Homo sapiens: one gene and its partner. The protein of the gene in region 2 interacts with the protein of the main gene of each other region in a biochemical or structural test. Each region holds a gene or a part of one and is shown on either strand. Other genes may lie near its edges. The genes, in order: RPH3A and ADD2.

What was found.
Region 1: the proteins of ADD2 (region 2) and RPH3A form a complex in vitro, tested with the Homo sapiens proteins (one study listed by BioGRID).

What each region holds. Positions count from the first base shown.
Region 1 is NC_000012.12:112,784,680-112,795,960, reverse strand, and holds the start of RPH3A (rabphilin-3A), read right to left. Parts: upstream 4,214-11,281; 5' UTR 3,949-4,213; intron 3,819-3,948; 5' UTR 3,698-3,818; intron 1-3,697. UniProt on the Homo sapiens protein: Plays an essential role in docking and fusion steps of regulated exocytosis.
Region 2 is NC_000002.12:70,700,538-70,711,153, forward strand, and holds part of ADD2 (beta-adducin), read right to left. Parts: intron 5,906-10,616; coding exon of another isoform or gene 5,872-5,905; coding exon 5,689-5,871; intron 3,923-5,688; coding exon 3,784-3,922; intron 1-3,783. UniProt on the Homo sapiens protein: Membrane-cytoskeleton-associated protein that promotes the assembly of the spectrin-actin network. Binds to the erythrocyte membrane receptor SLC2A1/GLUT1 and may therefore provide a link between the spectrin cytoskeleton to the plasma membrane.

The DNA of each region.
Region 1 (11,281 bases), on a different chromosome or scaffold from region 2:
ACTCACCTTCCTCTACCTCACCCTACTTTTGTTTTGGTCAGGGGTGATTTCACTGTTACCATCACCAACATCGCCCCGATTGCGAACATTTGTTGGATATTTACTCCTTGCCAGACTCAGTATAAAGTGATCATTAACTCTTAAAATTCTCACAACTGCATTCTTATTCCCATTTTGTAGATGGGAAAATTGAGGTCCAGAGAGGTGAAGTGACACAATCAGAAAGTGCTAGGATCAAGATCTAACCCTAAGAAATTTATTTCCAGAGCCCATCCTCTTAATCCCTATATCATGCTACCCTAATACACCTAATTGAAGAAACTGAGGCTCAGAGAGATTAAGGGCCTTGTCTGAAGTCACACAGCAAGGAAATGCCAGAGTCAAAATTAGAACTAAGATCTGACCGCCCCCAGAGCCCACACTGCAGCCCCTGGCTGGTTAAGAAGGTAGATAGGTGTGAGGCACAGAAAGAAGGGGGCTATTTCTGCAGTACCTCCTTCACTCTTTCAGCACATCAAGGCTCTCCATCCTGGGTGGCAGCTGAATTATTTAAAATCATCAGCTTCAGCCCACCATGACTGGGTCCCAGAATTATTTTTATCCCAGATTATGGCCACAGCTCTTAACAGAAATAAACCACACTGTTTTCTTCTCATTGGCTTCACATCAATTCCTGGCTTATCTGCAATTACAATCAGCTCCCCACTGAATGAGGGTGAAGGGCAGAAGACAGGTCCATGTGTCATGGTGGTTTTTATTGGAAAGCCATAAACTCTGTAGGACCCATTCACAGAGAGGGAAAGAGTTAAAGCATAATGTCACAGCCTACAAAGAAAGCCCAAGAGCAGCCACCCCAACCAAATGCACATCTTCAGACAAAGCAGCCAGTCTGTGTACGGAGCAATAAGAAGGAGAAAGGCAGAGTAGGCTGGGGGCACTGACTTTCCAGGCTACCCCTGTGGAATCACAGAATCTCTGTCTGCTGCCTCTCTCCTGCCAACAAGAAAGGAAATGTCCACATTTGTCTCCATGGCTAAGCTTCCTGATTACCAGCACGGGCTGGAGAGACACTGCTGAACATCCTTCCTCTGTACCTCAGGCTGGACTGGGGGAGTAGGGGCTGCTGGAGCCAGGAGTGAGGGGATGATGCCTTGGTCTTCATAATGGTGGGTTTATATGTTGCTGCCATAACTTACTGTGTGGTCTTGGGCAAATTGTTTTTCCTCTCTGGGCCCCCCTGGAAAGGGTTAGACTAAATCAGAGGTCCTGAACTTGGGGGGGTGCTCACATGGGCATTATTGAGGATCCACTAACCCCCTGATGTTGTGTGTTTGTGTGTATATGCATCTTTTCAGAGCAGAGCCTCTCCAAGGAGTCCTTGCTGCTACTCCTGAGAAGAGTCTCTTTGGAGCCTTCAAGTGCTGCAAAATCTACATCTCTGTGCATCTGAGGCCATAAATAAAGCAGACCCCTTTCCAGCTGAGCTCAGGATTCTAGAAACCTAGCAAAGTTCTCACAAGAGACTCCCCTATCCCCAATCACCCCAAACAGGGCCTCTCCCCGACACAGGATAAATTCTCAAGCACAGTGCTAACCCTTCCTAGAAATGTGGGCATGTGCAGTCACTCACACTCACACACATACCTATCTCATAGTCAGAGAACCCCAGAACTTGAAGGGGACTTAGGGCCACCCAGACAGACTGCCCCATTGCATAGATGGGGAAGCTGAGGCCCAGAAAGGGGAGACAGCTGGGACTGGAACCCAGGTCTCCTGACCCAAGTCCAAGGCTCTTTCCAGAAGCTTCTCTTTCCCTTTCCCTGGTGCACCACAATGCACCACTTCAAATGTGATGGGGGAGGAGGGAGGGCGGCCTCTTGGATCTTGGCCATCCCTAAGGAAGTGACCCAGTGGAGAGATATTTGGGAAGTGTCCACATCTGGACACCCAAGTATTAGCTATCCCAGCTGGGCTGGCCTGTACTGCATGGCTAAACCAGTTGTTAAAAATATTAAAATAAAATATAAATATTAAAATTAAATGGGGATGCTGCCCTGAGGCCTCGTGGCTCTCTTGATAGCCCCCTAAGATCCCCCCAAACCTCTCCATAATCCAGCAATTAAAAGATTAACACTCAGTACAGCAGGGGCCCCCTAAGATGCCCTATTCCAGGACCCTAGCCATTCTGATCGATTAGTACCAAATTTCAATACTTTAAATATCACCCATAGCCAGATATGTGGTTCTTTTTTTGAACAAAATTTCCACACATTCATTATTCACACTCAAGTCTTCCCAGTGAGGAATCTAAGGCAACTTCCTCCTCAAGGTCACCCAGCAAGAGAAGCTAGGAAGAGAAGTTAGGGATTTTGAGAACCAAATCTTTGACACTAACCACCAGACAACCCTCCTCTTCTGCCTCATATGTCCTGCCTGAGCAGGCACATGCTGTGGGATTTCAGCATCTCTTCTTAGCTATGGGGCTAGAGAAAAAAAGAATGAGTGAACCCTGCTTATATTTCAGGCTTGCCAATCTCTGACTGTTGTTTTATTCCTCCCACCTCCAAGAGCAAGAATCTAAAAAGGAAATCCTTGGGGGTGCAGAACACTGAGGTGGCCCCTGAGATAATAGCAAAAATGCTAAAAACAAGGGCATTCATTTCCAGAAAAGTAGATGTAATCAAAGCAGAAAGCAAAGTGAAATCCCCTTTTGATGGGTAGCAGATTAGCATCAAAAGCATTTCAAAATTAAATGTGAGCTTTTGGATTCAATTTCAAGGTACTTCCACTTCCCACTCACTAACAGGTTGGTGCAGCCTTTCCCCATCAGGATCTTGGAAAAAGAAACTAGTGCAGGGGGACGGTCTACCCTGGAACAAAACTGAAGCTGAAGCCTGGAATCTTTCCCCAGAATTTGAACAAGCTTTGTTCCCCTCCTTCCTTCTGAGATGAACTCAAGGATAGAATCTCCCAAGCTAGTGCCAGGACGCTCCCCCATACAATCACTTACAGGTTACGCCACCTGTGAAAATAAAACATCATCTCCTCTGCAGGCAGTGGCTGCTCCCTTCTGGCCAGCCTGACCACTCATCCCAGGCATAGTGTGGCCCTTTCCTGGCTCCCAGGTCTTCCATCTCAGGAAAGCGTGAACAGCCAACCTCGCAAAAATCACCACAATTAAATTACTCAGCTGTTCCTAGAAGAGGGTACAATCTAAGCTCTGTCCTGTGCAAATCTTACCCAGTGTGCCCAGGCAAAAGTTACCCTTCCAGTCTCAGGTGACCCCCTCCCCTCCAGGGATAAGCACTCACTTGCTAAGTCAGAGTACCCAGAGTCCCTCCATGCTAGACTAGCCAGCCCCACGAAGGGTTAACTCTCTCAGAGAACTGCCGGCTACTTTCACCAGCTTCTGCTGCAAAGGAGAGGGCAAATTGGGCAGAAGCCACAATCTTGATCGCATTGCCTACAACATGAGCACATTTTACCCCCTCCCTGGGCACTAAGCCAAAATCTCATTTGGCTTTGGGATGCCGCTTAGGTGATAAAACACTGCAGGATGTAGGCAAATAAGCATAGTCGTTCCTCGATACCCTTCTCCTCCCAACTACCCTTTACCCCACCAGCTCATGAACACACATCACAATTGGGATTCCAACACCCCTAGCCCATCTGCACAACCCGGGAGAATATCACTTACCGCGACGCTGGAGGCTTGCAGGGGGAATGGGTGAGCCAAATTCTTGCCAACTCCTCCCTTCCCTGCCGGGTAGAAAGACGCTAAGTCCCAATGACTTGGTTTAAAAGCTCAGCGGAGGTGCCTGAAAGAAAATTGTTCATTTGACTCTCCTACTCTTCCCAAAATAAAATCAAAGCACCAGTGCACACACGTAGACACACAGACACATCAACTACCCCTAAATCATGCAGGACCAAGACAAAAAGAAATACCACTGCCAGAAGCGGAGAAAACTCGGACCAGCCAGTGAGTCAGTGGACAAGGGACAGTGGCTCCCTCAGACTGTCCTCCACATGGATGAAGGTTTTAGCTCTGTGAGTCTCTCTCTCTCTCTCTCTCTCTCTCTCTCTCTCTCTCCCTTCTCCCTTCCTTTCCAGTCCGCGTAGGCAACTCCGGGCTGCTGGCAGTAGACGAATCAATTGCTTCCCCAGAGCCAGTTTCTGCCGCGGCTGCCACCACTACTGCAAAGCCCTGTGTGAGCAAGGGAAGCGGGGCGGCAGCTTCCCAGTGCAGGGGGAACCAAGCGGGAACCAAGCCTGCCTCCCACCCGTGATTTATGTGTGCGGTGCCTGGAGAAAGAAAGGTGGGAGGCCGGGAGGGGAGGTTGGGCGCACCAGAGATCCCAGCTGGTCGAAACGGCAACCAGGGGATTGGCGGTCAGCACCACGGACAGCGCTAAGATGCCTTGGAGGAGGGGATGGGTGGGAAGCGAACCCCTAGGCAGAGAAGTTAAGTAATTGGATGGTTAAAGCAGAGAAGGGGGGAGTCCGGAGGGGTGGGGGACGGGACTTCTCGACATCACACAGTCTAGTCAGTGACAGCTTACCTACCACACACTTTTTCTAATACTGTCGCTCACTCTCAGAGCAAAGGAACTATAACTTCACAGCCCCTGTCTCCCACACGCCCCCAGTCCTGCATTGCTCCTCTCTGCTCAGACAAGAGCTTGGCACCGGTGTGGGGGGCTCCCTAAGTGGTTTTGCCCCTCAAAGTTTCGCCCAGATGACCTGTCCTCACCCCCATTGCTGCAGATTTTTGACCTGTACCTGGAGTTTCTCAGAATTCAGAGCAGAAAAGCTGAGGCTTAAGAAATGGAAATTTCTAAGGGGCAGGGTGGCTTAGTTGAATAAGCACTTGATGGTTTTCTGGAAGTCAGATCCAGCCCCCTTACAACTCTGGAAAAGTCATTTAATGTTTCCAAGTCCCATCTGTGAAAATGATAACATAATGACCTTATTTTTCCTAAAGATAGGAAGCAAGAGGTTAAAATGCAACAATAAGAATACCCAAGCTGTGAACTGCCATGATTTCATGGTCCATAACCTGTCCTAAAACACAAATGTTTGGACAGAGTGATAAAGGAATTGACAGCCCAGCTAGGATGGCATGTGCCAACCTCACCCTTCAGCAGGTGGTTTGAGTAGAATGAAGGGAAATTTTAGGTCTAAATCAGACCATTGAGCCTTGGCCAAAGAGCCTTCCCCGAAAGATCCAGACTGGCTTTCTGAAGTGAATTCACTATATGGACAATGAAATAAAAGTATCAAAAGGGGAAATATATAAAGATGAATGGATTCCCATGGCTCCCAGTGCTCCATATCTCAAGAGTCCTATTCCTCCTAACTTTGGGAAAGGGCTCAAATTGGAAAAAGGCCAGGAAATCTCAAACAGACCAAGATCTGCTTAGAACTTCTCTGCAAAGTGAAGGAGAACTCTCTCTATTGGAGACTCATATCTAAAGCTTCCCATCCAGATGGCCCAGGGTTAACTACTACATTTGTCACTTACTTCTCCCCATGAGACCCAGGAGTTAAAATGAGAACATTTAGAGCTCATTTAAAAAACAATTTTTTAAAGACAGTGTCTCTGCCAGGCGCGGTGGCTCATGCCTGTAATCCCAGCACTTTGGGAGGCCGAGGCAGGTGGATTACCTAAGGTCAGGAGTTCGAGATCAGCCTGGCCAACATGGTGAAACCCCATCTCTACTAAAAATACAAAAAAATAGCTGGGCATGGTGGTGTGCACCTGTAATCCCAGCTACTCGGGAGGTGGAGGCAGGAGAATCACATGAACCTGGAAGGCAGAGGCTGCAGTGAGCCGAGGTTGCACCATTACACTCCAACCTGGGCAACGAGAGTGAAACTCCATCTCAAAAAAAAAAAGAAAAAGACAGTGTCTCACTCTGTCACCCAAGCTGGAGCGCAGTGGTGCAATCATAGCTCACTGAAACCTTGAACTCCTGGGCTTAAGTGATCCTCCCACCCCAGCCTGTCCAGTAGCTAGGACTCAAGGTGCACACGAATATACCCTGCTAATTTTTTTTTTTTTTTTTTTTTTGCAGAGATGGGTCTCACTATATTGCCCCAGCTGGTCTTGAACTCCTCGCCTCAAATGAACCACCTGCCTCAGTGGTGGTGGTGGTGGTGGTGGTAGTAATTGTCATCATGATGGTAATCATAGTGATGATTATAGTGATGGTGTTGATTGACAATGATTATGCTGATGATGTTGATGGTGATGATTATGGTGGTGGTGGTGGTGGTGGCAATGATGGCTGCTATTGAAAACCTACTATGTGCCAGCTCTTCTGCTAGGAACTTTACATGTATCATCTTCTGAAGTCCTCACCATGACCCTTTCAGGACACTAGTATTATTCCCATCTTGCAAATGAGAAAACTTAGACTCAAGAAATAAAATTCCTTGCTCAAGGCTTCACAGTAAGTTACAGACACAGCATTCAAACTCAGTGTCGTATGATTCCAAAGAACATGCTCCAGGATGTCTCTCAGAGTTCATTTCAAATGCATTCTACAAGTTTGAGGGGAAAATTTTCATCGAATATTTTCTGGGATGATCCTGTGACATAAATTCAGTGTCCTCAATTTACAGATGGAGAAACTCGGGACCAGAGACGAGAATTGACTTGTCCATAATCAAAGAGCTAGGAAGTAGCAGAGTTGAGTATAGAATGCAAGCCTTTCAGATGCCAGGACCTGTGGTCTATTGCCTAGGGCAGTCCCAGGCACATAGGAAACCCTCAATAAACAATATCGTTTGTTTTATTTGAGACAGAGTCTTGCTCTGTCACACAGGCTGGAGTGCAGTGGTGAGATCTCGCCTAACCGCAACCTCCACCTCCTGGATTCAAGACGTTCTCATGCCTCAACCATGCAAATAGCTGGGACTACAGGTATGCGCCCCACGCCTGGCTAATTTTTGTATTTTTAGTAGAGACGGGGTTTCGCCATGTTGGTCAGGCTGGTCTCGAACTCCTGACCTCAAGCGACCTGCCCACGTCGACCTCCCAAAGTGCTGGGATTACAGGTGTGAGCCACCACACCTGGCTGCCTCAATAAACATTTGAAGAGTGATTCAAGAAGCCCAGGGAGAAATGAAAGTCATTTAGGATGCTGGTGGTGGAATCAGAACCCAAGTAGTTCCCAGGCCTCTTGGCTTCCAATCCCAAAGAATTTCTCACAGCTTCCCCAGCCATTAGGCATGTATTCTGGGAGGGCCTCTCATGAATTCAGCTCTCCCTTAGGGAATGACAATAGCTACCACCTGCTGCATACCTAGACACTTGCCATGTGTCACGCATTGTACTAAGCACTTTACAGTGATTATCCCCACACTTCACAGCTACCTGAAGTGGGTGCTATTACTGCCCCATTTGCAGACAAGAAGCAGACAGATGATGTGAAGCCCCCAAACTCACACAACCAGGGAGCAGCAGAGGCAGGGATGCAAATCTCAGGTCTGTCTGACTCCAAAGCCTGTGTTTTCATGACCCTGTCAGTTTTTCCTAAACCAGGCCCCCTAGAGGCCCCTGTGGAAATGAAAAGAGGCCTCAACTGACCCTCCACTCTGGTTTCAACTAGAACAGTTAGTGGTGCTTTTAACTGTTTTGCATACTGGGCATCTGCCCAAGCCTTCATTGAAACAAGGATTTTGCACCAAAATTAAAAAATAATAATATGGTTGAAACCTGAGCTCTCCACCCTCTCTGGTCACCATGCCATCTAGGAACTAGCCTTGTCTTGTCAGGGGACCTTGCCCCATCCTGCCCACCTCCCTGGTCACCACTGCCAAACCCCTCTTCTGTCCCGGGTGCTTCTGGAGAACCCTTTGTTCAAAGAACCAGCTGCTGCTGTAAACTCCACCAGCCTGTGGCACTGCAGCAGGGAGACACCTCAAAACCCAGACTTCTCAAGGCTGAGCCCGGCCAGGGTCTGACTCTCTCGAGGCTTCATTCAATGATAGAACATTGCGAAGATTCCTCAGGCCGCAATTCAGCAAGCTGCCTTGCTCTACCCTTGTTTTATGGAGCAGAGGCAGCCCAGTAAGACTTTCCATCACCCCAAAGAGGATGGGAAATGATGAAGGTAGTAATAGCTACAGCAACAAATGCTACCCACTACCTCCTGCACAATTTGTATATGTGCAGCGGCATCATCTCATCCTCCCAACAATCCCATTTCAGGATGATAATGGTTTCATTTCTGTTCTATGAAACTGAGACTCCTAAAGCAACTAGCCTGAGGCCATTGAGTTCATAAGTGGTGAGACTGGAATTTGAACCAAGACCCTGTGAATTTATGATCATTATGCTATCTGGCATTCCTAATTCCTAATCATCTCTCCTTTTGCAGGGGGCAGGTGCTTACTATTTACCAGGTGCCATGCTTTATCTCCCCAGCACTATTCATGACTGACAACAGTGAAAGGAGGTTGTGTTGTGCTATTTACCCATTTTCAAGATGAGGAAATCAGACATGGAGAGCTCAAGTGACTTGCCCAAGATAACACAGCCAGGAAGAGGGGGAGAATGGGGTGTGAATCTGAACAGTTTATCTCAAGGTCCTCTGTGCTTTTCTGTCTCCCAAGGAAATGGGCACTGAGATAGCCCATTTCACTTAGCAAGTGTGGTAGGCAAAATAATGGCCCCAAAAGATGTCCACATTTTCATCCCCAAAAGGGGTTAATAGATTACCTTAAGTGGCAAGTGGGACTTTGCAAGTGTGATGAAGTTGAGGATCTTGAGGTGGGGAGATTATCCTGGGCTATTTGGGTGAATCCAATGTAATCACAAGGGTCCTTATAGGAGGGAGGCTGGAGGGCCAGAGTCAGAGAGGAAAGGTGTGGATGGAAGTATAGGGGGAGAGAGAGAAAGAGAGGTAGGGAGAGGTATGAAGATGCTTTGTTACTGGTCTTGAAGATGGTGGAAGAAGCTACCAGGTAAGGAATGTGGGCAGGCTCTAGAAAATGGAAAAGGTGAGGAAAAGAGTCTCCCTGAGAGCCTCCAGAAGGAACACAACCCCACTGCTGACACCTTGGTTAAAGGAATTCTGACCTCCAGGACTGTAAGATAATTAATCTATGTTGTCTTCAGCCACAGAGTTTGTGGTTATTTGTTACAGCAGCATAGGAAACCAATATAGCAAGTCTGCCAGGGGACCCTACATTAAGAAGCCCATAGCAAATCGGCTTTAGGAATCATGACTGAGCTCCCTCTTAGACAAAGAACCCAGTGCTTCAATCATACTACAACCTGTTCTGAACAATACCATGTGTGTGCCCTACAAGAGAAAGGAAACATGCTCAAAGCTTTAGCCTGAACACTGGGCTTTGTCGCTGGATGACACTGCTAGGGCGTCCATGCCTTCCTCACTCCCTCCTCCTTCTCCTTTAAGAGCCTCCAGGGAAATGCTACTGTCAGGGACACAAAAGGGAAGAAATGTCACAGGGCAGCTTTCCAGGAGCACAACTCATCACAGGGAATCGGTCAAAGATAGAACAAGTAAACGAAACAGAGAGATTGGCGTGCAAGAGAAAGAGAAAGAACACGAGACAGAGAGAGAAAGGATTGCTGGGTCCCTGAGATCGGCCTATGTGCACTGACAAATCCCTTCCCACAAGGAAAAGGGCAGTCGTGGGGAAGCCCACTAACCTCCTTAGGAAAAGACACAGTAGGACTTGGCGAAGCAAGCTTTCAAGACAAGTCAACAAGTTTTATTTATTAATCAGTCAATTCCACGTTACCAGGCAAGGCTCTGCCAGGGGAAGGGAACTTGGACTTGCCTTCTCTGATACTTGGAGTTTGATTTCAGCTCCCTACTTCCCAGTTTGGGACCTTGGCATGTCACTGGCATGCTCCGAACCTCAGTCTCCTCAGCTATAAAATGGGACCACCATACCTTCCCCGCTCATCTCCTGAAGCAGCCAGGATGTTTCACTGAGCTAATGAATAGCAATGAGTTTCGTATACTCTAAATGATGAATAACAGCTACCATTTACTAAGTTTCTACTGTGTGCTTATCCAGACTCCTATCCTCAAGGAATGCAGTGAAAACGTCCAGCCCAAAGTGACCATAAGTAAGAGGAAAAGGACAGCAACAGCAGAGACGGCATAATGAAATTGTTAAGAGGCCAGGTTCTAGAGCTAGGCTGCCAGTGTTCAAATCTGACTCTACCACATGCAAACTGTGTGACCTTGAGGAAGTTACTAAACCTCCCTTTGCCTCAGGTTCTCTGTCTGCAAAGCAAATGATAGCACTTCCTTATATGGTTGTTGTTAGGATCACATTAGCTAACATACGTTAAAGCACTTAGAGCAGAGCCCGGCACATAGGCAGCCCCATGTCTGTCATCTTTATTCATTATCATGGCCATTGTGATTATTATTTATCATGGAAGAGAGGTATCTTCCAATGAGTGATACACATTGTGCTGAGATCCAAAAGATGAAGTTAGGTATTCTAAGGATGTTTATTTTTTCAGTGTTTAGATGTTACATTTTTACTTTAAAGCACATTAGAAAATTATTATATTCCCACTTACAGCAGTGACTTAATGTCATTTCCATCACCTCCATAGCATTATCTGCCCTGAAATCTGAAAATCAGTCAGTCCTGAAATCATTCCTCTGGGTATGCTAGGTTTGCCTAACTATGCTCTGCCAACCACCATGCAGCTGTATCTTTTTTTTTTTTTTCTTTTTTGAGATGGGAGTTTCGCTTTTGTTGTCCAGGCTGGAGTTCAATGGCGCAATCTCGGCTCACTGCAAACTCCGCCTCCTGGGTTCAAGTGATTCTCCTGCCTCAGCCTCCCAAGTAGCTGGGATTAGAGGCATGCACCACCATGCCTGACTAATTTTGTATTTTTAGTAGAGACGGGGTTTCTCCATGTTGGTCAGGTTGGTCTCGAACTCCCGACCTCAGGTGATCCACCCGCCTCTGCCTCCCAAAGTGCTGGGATTATAGGCGTGAGCCACCACACCCAGCCACAGCTGTATCTCTTAAGGCCAGCTTCCCAGTTAAGCCAGTGAGTACCAAAACACAATCTTAGGCCAAAAGAATAAAGTAAGCATGTAGAACCTTTCGTCTCCCAAGTCCTCTCCAGAATCTGAATCTGTTTCTAGCCTGTAACAAATAAACAGCTGACACTTATTGAAGGCTGACTGCATTTTCCTCATCTGAACTCCTACAACAGAACCTCACCTTCTCCCTGTGTCCACCCTACATTATAACTGGCTCCCCCATCAGA
Region 2 (10,616 bases):
AATACATAAATAACAAAATAGAAAAGTTATGGAAAAGGATTAATGAATATAGAAATAAAACTAATGAATCAGGAAGCAGAAAGAATAACAGGACCAATAAGTAAATCCAAGAATTGGCTTATGTGAGATGATCTATGAATAAACAAATATCTAGATTGGTCAATAAAGAGAAAGCAAAAATTTACATAGCACCAGGAATGAGAATGGGATGTTATCTCATCTACTTTAGCAGGAAATTTGAATGATAAAAATAATATTGTAAATGACTCATAATTTTGAAAAACTCCATAAAATGGTTTATTTTACACAAAATATATGACGAAAATTTAACCAAGAAGCAGCAAAATAAATTTTAAAACCCCAGATGAAACTGAGGACAAAAACATCAAAAATCCCTAAAAATATTCCAGATCTAGATGACATTCTAAGTGAATAATAAATCTCAAGGAACAGAGATTTCCTATCTTATTTAAACTATATCAGGGTAAAAAAGAGAGAGAAATCACCTTGATTCATGTTATGAAATTACAGTCATGGTATCAATACTAGGTAAAGACTGCCCAAAAAGTGAACTGCTAACCAATCTCATGTGTGAATATGAATGCAAAAATCTTTAATAAAATTCTGGAAAATCAAATCCAGAAGGGTATTTTTAAAAGAATGCATCAAGACCAAGAATGATTTATTTCAGTAATGAAAAAGGAGTTCAATACTCAGAAATCTGTTACTAAAACTCATCACCTCAATAGTTCAAGGGAAAAAAAAACCAATAAATGGCCAAAATGTATTTTATGACATTCAACATCCATTCCTGAGAAAAACTCATAGTGAACTAGAATAAAAAGATATTTCCTCAACACGATAAAAAATAATTGTCTCAAACTCTTGTGGTAAAACAACTTCCATTAAAGTCAGAAATAAGACAAGGATAATTAATCTATTATTAAACATTGTTCTGAAAGTTCTAACAGATGCAATGAGAAAACTGGAAAAATAAACCAATGGGTAAATGTTGAAATGAAGGAAGCAAAATGATCATGATTTGCAGATTATGTGATTTTTGTATATACAATACCCAAAAGAATTAACTGAGATGATATTAAAATTTAAATAAGAGTTCAATAAGGGGCTAGTGTATACACACATGCACACACACACTTATATGTATATATATATCTAACAATTTATCTTAAATGAGAACTATAACCAGAAAGAAAATAGAATGGATAAAGATTCACTTAAAATAACAAAGTTATTTAAAAATTTCAGAGTAAACTTCATAAGAAATTAGTAAGAACTACATGAAAATAATTACTAAACTTCTCTGATGGATATGAAAGAAGACTTAAATAAATAAAAGACATATCTCATTTCTGAAAAGATTTACAATTCACTCATGTAAATATCTTTAAGTACCTACTATGTGCCAGATACATTCTAAATCAAAGGATATAGCAGTGGACCAAACTTACAAATTTCCCCTACAGAGCTTACATTCTAATATAAAATTATAAATTTATAAATTCTTCACCAAATCAATTTATTCGTTTAATGTAATCCCAATCAAAATCCCAAAAGGAATTTTTAAGGTCAATGGGGGGACTTGATAAAATAATTCTAAAGTTTGATTTTTGTTTTTGCTTTTTTGAGATGGAATCTTGCTCTGTCACTCAGACTGGAGTGCAGTGGTGCAATCTCAGCTCACTGCAACCTCCACCTCTAGGGTTCAAACAATTCTCCCACCTCAGCCTCCCAAGTAGCTGGGATTACAGGCATGCAACACCATGCCTGGCTAATTTTTATATTTTTAGTAGAGACAGGGTGTCACCATGTTGGCCGGGCTGGTCTCAAACTCCTGACCTCAGGTGATCCACCTGCTTTGGCCTCCCAAAGTGCTGGGATTACAGGCATGAACCATTGTGCCTGGCCTAAAGTTATTGTAAAGAATAAACTTGTACAAACAGTTGAGGAAAATTGACAAATGCATAATTAAGGGTATTTGTTCCATCAGATGATGAAACATGGGAAAGGTATTTCTAAGCATGCAATCAAAAGCAGAACACACAAAGGAAAATTACAATGGTTTCCGCTACACAGAAACTAAAGAATTCTACAAGACAAAAAAAATGCCATGGACAAAACTAAAAGACAAAGGAGAAACTGGAAAAAAAAAAAGCAATATATTTGACAGATAATAGAGAAACAGCTTTACTTTATAAAAATGTAAAAATCTATAAGAAAATAATACACTAATAGGAAAATAGGCAAAGGATGTAAAAAGGCAATTTACTATAAAAAGAAAGTCAGGGGCGGGCACGGTGGCTCACGTCTGTAATGCTAACACTTTGGGAGACCGGGGTGGGTGGATCACTTGAACCCAGAAGTGCCAAACCAGCCTGGGCAACATGGTGAAACCCTGTCTCCACAAAAAATACAAAAATTAGCCAGGCATGTGGTGCGTGCCCGTGGTCCCAGCTACTTGGCAGGCTGAAGTGGGAGGATTGCTTGAGCCTGGAAGGTTGCAGTGGGCTGAGATTGCACCACTACACTCTAGCCTGGGCAACAGAGTGAGATTCTGCGTGAAAGAAAGGAAAGAAAAGAAAAAGGAAAGGAAGAAGAAAAGAAAAGAAAGAAAAGAAAAAGGAAAGGAAAGGAAGAAGAAAAGAAAACGAAAGAAAGAGAAAGAGAGAAAGAGAAAGAGAGAGAGAAAGGAAGAAAATCATGTCCAATATGTATGTGAAAATACATTAATATATCCAACCTCATCAGTAGTCAAACAAATGCACATTAAAACACAAATAAAGTATTATTTGTCACCTACTGAATCAGGAGGATGAAACAAATGGTAGTATACACTATGGACCAGGGTAGAGGAAATGGGCACTCTACCGCATTACTGTTGGGAACGTAAATTGGATCCATTTGGAGAAAGGATGTAATCTGCCATTCTGCATTAAAGTCTTTAAAACATGCATGCATGTACTTCAATTCAGCAATTCTACTAGTAATTTATCTTAAGAAAATAATCACGGATATAATCTCAGGTTTATTTACAAGGATGTTTATTGCATTGTTCCTAACAGAAAAAGTTGGAAATAACCTAAAAGTCCAACAATGGGAAATTTATTAAATAGCATGTATCCACCAAAAATTATATTATAGAACCATATTTTATGTGATTACATTTGTGTTTGCATAATCTATATATGTTAAGAAAAAAAGGACTGGAAGGATATATGTTCACCAAAATATTAAGAATAGTAATATGAGGGCTTTAAGAACACAGTAGAATGATTTCTGCTTCCCTTTCTTGGTTATTTTCACAGTTTTCAGCCATAATCCTGTAATAATCTTATTGAGGGGGAGTTATTTTTTGATGCTTGTGTTTTAAACGTTATGGGCAGAGCATAACAGCCCAGGAGGGTGGCTTCCTGCATAGCCCTGGCTGGCTCCTCTCAGCCCTCATCTGTGGAGTCAGGTTGGCCTGTCTAGTGGGGCATGGAAACACAGGCTTCAGTGGTCTCTTCCCGTCCACTGAAGTCACCTCCACCCTCTTATTCCTGGCATTGGGGTAATTTTTCTGTGGACGTTTAATTTGCAGCAACATCAGAAGCAGAGCCAGGTACCTCTCTGGCTGCTGCTGAGCTCCCCAAGGCCTGATAACACAATGGGCTGCTTACTCCATAGCCTGGCAACCAGATGCTTCTTGCTGCTCCTCCCTCTCTTCCCCACCCCACCCTCCCCTCCACCTCTGCTCCTGGCAGCTCCCCAGACACCACATACTCATGGAAGATGTCGGGAAGACTGCGTGGGAGGTGCTGGCCATGAAGTCCGCGATCTGTCGCAGGGCCCAGATGTTGGAGGAGTTGTTCCCCTTCTTCATCTGCTCCTGGATGAGGCCTTCCAGCTCCTCCCTGAAAGACTGAAGCAGGCCCCGAGGTGCTTGTCCCCCCACAGCCTCTCACACAGCTGCCCAACAATGAGCTCTTCCAAGTGCCCACCCCTTGCCCCTGGGTCAGCTAGGTCAGGGCCATGCTCAGGGTCCCCAGCTACAGGGGACACTGAGCAGTTCCACTAGGACCTCAGGAATTGCTGTATGGGAAGCAACAAAGAAATGCTGGGAATGGATCTTGTGTTCCCTTGCCCTGTGGGCAGTAATCCAGATTCCAGGTCCTTTCTGTGTCTAAATGAGGGCCAAGACCCCTCCCCACCATCAGACATGGTAGGACTTCACTTTAGTAATGAAGGACATTTTTTTAGGCAGAACTGAATGGAGAGAGCCACCATCCCTCTCCATTAGCGATGCCTGTGATTCTTTCGGGCTTCAGTTTCCTCATGTGCTTAATGAAAGGGTAGGAGGAAGAACAGGAAGATTTGATGACCTCTGAGGTCACTTCCACTCCTGATGTCCAACTCTAAGCCTGGCTTTTCAGACCATGAAGCCATAAGCAAGGAATCCTGCCCACCAGGTGGCAGGAGAAAACACTCAGGAGGAAATGGGGGGCCACTTAGGTGTGTTGGCCAACCTGTAAAAGGGAAGAAGGAAGCAGGCCCTCCTCCAACCCCTATTTACTGCCTGAGCCCTGAAATCTGGGCTGGTGCTAACTCTGCCGCCTCTCCTAACCCCCTTGCCACCCCTCCTAGTCACACTCTGGGGGTTTTCCCAGAGGCTCTTCACCCCAATGCTTTCAGCATCTGCCATATTCCTCCCAGCTCCCCAACACAATATCTGGGCACAGATATTGGACCTCGGCCCATTCCCTGGAGCTGCTCTGTGTGGCCTGAGTATGCACCATGGCTCCCAGCCAGGGTCTCACACAGCCCCTGCACAGGCCCTGGCTCTCTGGAGCCCAGAAGGCCAAGGCAGAGCGGCTCCCATCTCGAGCCCATCCTGGCAAGCAATTGGAGATGCCAACTCTGTCCCTGGGCTTCCCGATCCTTAGGATCATGGGCTGATTCCTGAGGCCCCCCAAGCTCTTCCTCAGTCAGACCCCTCTTGCCTCCACCACAGTGATCTCCCTCTGCCTTCAGTGGTCCACAGGGCCCACCCTTCGGCCTTCTCAAGGCACTACCTGCCTCAAGGAGGAGCTGTGTCCATGCCAGGCAGGAACCAACTGGCCCCAAGTAAGGAGGGATGTGAGTGATCCCGACTTGCCTTCCCTTCCCACACCCCATCCCACAGCCCGGCTGAGCCCTCCACTCTGCCCACCTCCTGGGGCTTCCAGGCTCTCCTCAGCCCCATCCCATTCATGTCAAAGCTTCATTTGTCCCGACAGAAAGTTCTTACTTTGTGGTGTTCAGTAAAGGGAGCCCCAAGCCCTCCTCCTGGCACCCTGCTGGTCTCTAGTTTACATGGATTTGTCCGTTCACTGTCATAGCTTTTGGTGAGGAGGGAAGACTGGGAACTGAGGCTCCGAAGGGGCACAGGAAACTGAGGGGGACTCCTGTCTCCGTCCCACCTCCCCCCGCACCAAGCCAAACTGCCACACACAAGCCAGGTTCTGCCATCCACCAGTTACAAGGGAGAGTGTCAAGGCCCCAGGTGACCAGATCCGTCTTGCTCAGTGGGCTTACATTTCTACTGACCCTGAGCAAGGGAAAGAGGAGTTACTCATCTTTCGGGTGGGTACACGTCCTGAAGAGCCAGCGCCCCCTGCGCCCTCTCCCGCCCGGGTCAGCCCCACTCACGGGACTCTGCAGGATCATGGTGACGCGCTTCTTCTGCTCCATCAGGTTGAAGTCCTGCCGCAGGTCCGCCGCCCGGTTGCGAAGGCGCATGTACTCGGGGTCGTCCTCTGAGAAGCGGTCAAAGTAAGGCTGCCCCTGCGGGGGCGGCGGCGAGGCAGCCTCGGGGACCGTCTCTTCGCTCATTTTCCCGGTGGGTTTGCAATTCGCTCCTGGAACTCTACAGAGAAGGGGAGAGGGTATGCGGTCAGGTTGGTGCTCCCCATCGGGGTACACGTTTCTCAGAGCACAGGGCTAGGTTCAGTTGGATTCTCAGTGGGGTACGGCTGTTCCTAGGATGGTAGAGGCAGAGCCTGGGGAGGAGGGCAGGACGCCAGCAGCGGCCCCATATACCCATCTATAGGGGCGCTGCTGTGCCATGAGACTAAGTAAAAACATGGGTTCAGGTGTCCACTCCCTTCCCCAACTAGCCAGCCCTTAAATGGTCACACTTGGCTTGGAGTAGAGAGTTCCCCGAATGGAAACATGACCTGCAGACCTTGTTGAGCATTTCTGTGATGCACACCTATGCAGTGGTAAGCTACTTACTGGAAATCAGTACTTCATCTAAAATGGAAACCCTCTAATAAGGCCCCTCAAAAATTATGGTGGAAATAGCTAATGCATGCTGGGCTTAACACCTAGGTAATGGGTTGATAGGCGCAGCAAACCACCATGGCACACATTTACCTATGTAACAAACCTGCACATCCTGCACACGTATCACAGAACTAAAAAGAAAAAAAAATTATGGTGGGAAATTCACAAAAGAATACTACTATTAAACAGGGCCTACTAAGACTACTACTAAAAGAGCACAGGAACTACTGAAACGTGGGAAGCGCTTTGCCCAATGCTTTTCTTTACAACTTAAACTTCGCTCTGGCCCCTGGAAAGGAATTTATTGGTGAATCTGTTTTTCTGAAACTTGTTTTAATGCAGAATCAGATTCTTATTCCAAGTTTAAAAAGAGGTGTGCAACTTTATTAATGGAAAATTATTTTCTCTCCAATCCCATTCAACTCATGTTGAGAAACAACAACTAAATATGGTTTGCAGGGTGCCATGCTGCCCGGCTGCCAGAGCCCCACGTGCTGCGTGTAAACCTGCTCCCTGGAGCAAGGACCACGACAGCCTCTGGAAAGTCAAGCTGGGGGAAACCTGTGGATTTTTTCTAATCAAGAATACTTTTTAAAATGTGTGAATGATGAATGAAGAAATGTTTTCTGTTGCTATCTTGGAGCCCTTCTGAAGAGTAAGCCTGCAGTTCCGGGCTTCACTTCCCGGCAGTGGGAATTTGCGAAGCCCGTCTCCTTTCCTGTGTCGGCACTGCAAGGCCTTCAAATCGGTGCTCTGCCCCTTCAACACCCAGGGTGGCCTTACAGAGCGTTGGCCTTCTCCCTGCTGGCTGATTCTCTTCTCAGCAGAAGGCAGCATGTACTTTGGCTGAACAATAATTAGCTTTTTAACATATATGTGAAGATACAAATAAAAGAGCATTACAAGGGACCAGGACACCTGGGTTCTCATCCATAACCTGCCACTCCCTTGCTTTACCTCCATGGGCTCCCATTCCATGAGGAGATGGAATGCTCTCTTGTTCTTTGGGAGAAGACTCCTGGCCTCCCAGGTCCTGATCTGCCCTTTGCCTGTGGCTGGCCAGTCCTGGCTCCCTCCGGCCTTGCTCCAGCAGTCCTGTTGGCCCCAGCCTACCCTTGATTCTGGTCAGAAGCTCATTACAAAGGAGGCTTTGCTGATGTCCAGTAGAGCATATTCTTGTTGTCCCTGAGCTGCCTGTAACCTCTTCTTCCACATTCTACCAGAACTCCACACACTACCTTTGCAGTCTCTCTGGGTGGGGTGAGGGGAGAATGATGCCATAGATAAGCTTGGAGGACAGTGGAAGGCCATCCCATCAGCCCAGAATACACAGATGGTTTCCTGTTGTTCTTGTTTGCATTCTTCCTCTAGGGGAAAGGCAAACAGTTCGTTCAAGGGAAGGCGCATGGACAGAGTTCCTCAAGGGTCAGCTGATGGCCTGAGCCCTCAGCCTAGAGCAGTGGTTCTCAACCTTGGGTGCACAATAGCATCACCTGGGAACTTTAAAAAGTACTGATGCCAGATATTCTAATATAATTAGTCTGAGGTATGACCTGGACATCAGGATTTTTCAAAAGCTCCCTAATCCCTAGTGAGCAGCCTCGGTTGAAATATCCATAGTTTAGATGTTAATGGTTGCAACATGTAATGGAAGGCATCCATTCCAGGTGTTGGCCATTTCTAGCAAGTCTGACATAAGATGGCACAAAACCTCACATAATCTGACTCTCACATCACAGGCCAAGTCCCATAGCTGTCTAGGCCCCTCCCCTCGTTCAAACCACCATCTGCTATCATACACTTGGCCTGGGACATGTTACATTAAGTTTGGCCTAAAGCTGCCTCCTTACATATTTTAAGTGTGGCCTAAGGGCTTTTCCACGTATAATAAACTGTAACCCAACTTGATGTGTAATAGACTGTAACCTACTCTTGTGACAAGTAGCTGAGTCTCAGCCAACCACAGCAGCTGAGCTTCCACCAATCACAGGTAGCCAACTATTCAAACACTATTCCAATAAAGCAAATACAAAGCTGTAACCAATCCAGTCATTTCTGTATCTCACTTCCATTTTCTGTAGGTCACTTTCCTTTTTCTGTCCATAAATGTATCCAATCATGTGGCAGCCTCAGAGTCACTCAGAAACCATTCTGATTCTGAGGGCTCCCAAGTTCCTGAATCATGCTTTGCTCAAACTCTGTTAAGTTTAATTCATCTAAAATTTTTCTTTTAACAGGCAGTGGGAGTGCTCCAAATGCCACCATGGCCCACTTCTGCAAAGCTGCCAAACCAGGACCTATGATCTTAATCATTCCACTAGTTAGTCATCTTCTTATGAAAGCCCTTACCTGATCTCCCCCAACCAGCACCACACTTACCAGCGGTGTTGACAAAATATTTGATAATAGGGGACGGAGATGAAGGGTCGGAGGTAGGGGAAGGGGTCTGCTGGGAGTGGGAGCCAAAAAAAAAAAAAAAGATTCTGTAAAGAAAGATTTTGAAACAGATTTGGCAGGCTGCTAGAATGGTTGTGGTCATACTTGGCAACATTTAAATCCAGACCCTTTCCTTTCATCTGAATGGAAAAAGAGTGAGTCAGGGATGTTGCTGGTGGACTGAGCTCTAGACTAGAAGTCAGGGACCTGCAATCTTGCCCCTATCTGTCACTCAGTAGCTGCATGGGCTTGGGCAAGTCATTGCCTCTCTCTGGGTCTCACTTTGCCCAGCTCTAAATCAGAAAATGAACCAAATGACCTCTGGGGTCCCTTCTAGCTCTGACACTCTATGATTTATCTGAGTTGGAGACAGATACATTCGTGTAATAAAGGCGGAAGCATGGAGGATCTGGGTTTCCTGGAGCAAGAGATCTTCCCGCTTTCCCCCAGAGCCTCTCCCACAAGTCAGATGCCAAAAGAGAAACATCTGCAAAGAACACACATTGGCCTTGTGGATTCCAGTCAGTCCCACGTGCATGGCGTTAGTTAAGAATATTTCACCTCTATCATGCTCACACCCAACCTCATCCCTGGACCTTGAGGATAAGAAGGGATGACAAAGTCAAACATAATAGAACTGCATCAGAGCCACACAGACATGTGGCCCCCACTCAGATTCTTCTGGGCAGGCAGCACGGCAGAACAAAATTCTTCCAGAGACATCACCTCATCGAACCCCACTCCTTCTCTGTTTAGTGACTCATCATAGTAAATTAATTCTCTTTGGCACTTTCAAAGCCCTGAACCTTTTATATTATTTTTAAAACAGCAACAAGCAACTCCCCTTCCCCAGTGAGTACACTGGATGTGAGCATAGGCATGTGAGCCCCCTGTGCTCCCTAGGACTCCAGGCTCTAAGCCAACTGAACTCTCAGCTTCTCTGGGACTGGGATCATTTTGGCCAGCACAGCCTTGTACTGAGCCTTCCAGGCAGGAAAAGGTTGACCCTCTCCCCTTCCCCATGGAGTGGTTGCATTCCCCAGTAACTGATCTGTGAAGGCTGTGAAGTAGCTCTGCCCTCCCTGAAGTACAAAGAACCAAGAAGCTCTGGGCCTGATGGACAGGAGCTCACACCGCTATGCCCCAGGGCCTGCCTTCCCTTCTTAGAGCCCTGCCCCAGAGGGTTGCTCCAGAGGTACTCCGATGGGGGTGGTGTAGGACATGGAAGCCCTGACTCCATCACCATCACAGCAGGGGCCTGAGCCAACCCTTTGGCTTTGTGAATCACAGGCATCCTCTTGTGCTCCTTCCTTCTGTCTCCAAAAAGTTATGTGCAGAATGGCTTAGCGATTAAAAGCACAGACTCTGGAACAAGACTACCTGGGTTCAAATCTCAGCTGTGCCACTTATTATCTGTGTAATCTTGAGCTAGTTAACTGCTCTGTGCCTCCGTTTCCCCACATATAAAATGGGGACTGTAGTAAATTAACTACCTTGAAACGTACTTGTGAGGATTAGTGAAGTTAATGTATGTGGAGTATTTAAAACAGGGCTTGGTATATAGCAAGTGCTATTAACTATTTACTCTTATCATGTGTGATTGAGGGGCTTAAGTCATCTTAGCATTAGGAATTCAAGTAATGAGAGGCTTGTGATTCAATTATAAACAGGTGCACACTAAATAACTGTAATTATGTGTTTTAGTCTAAAAAACTAATTCAATCTTGAGCTACATCGACAAAAAGAAGAACATCCAGAAAAAGACTGAGAATGCCCAGTTTCCCAACCAGATAATGGGAACAGGTCAACCTCGATATCACAAAAAAGAAGCTCACCAGGATGCTGAAGATCAGAGG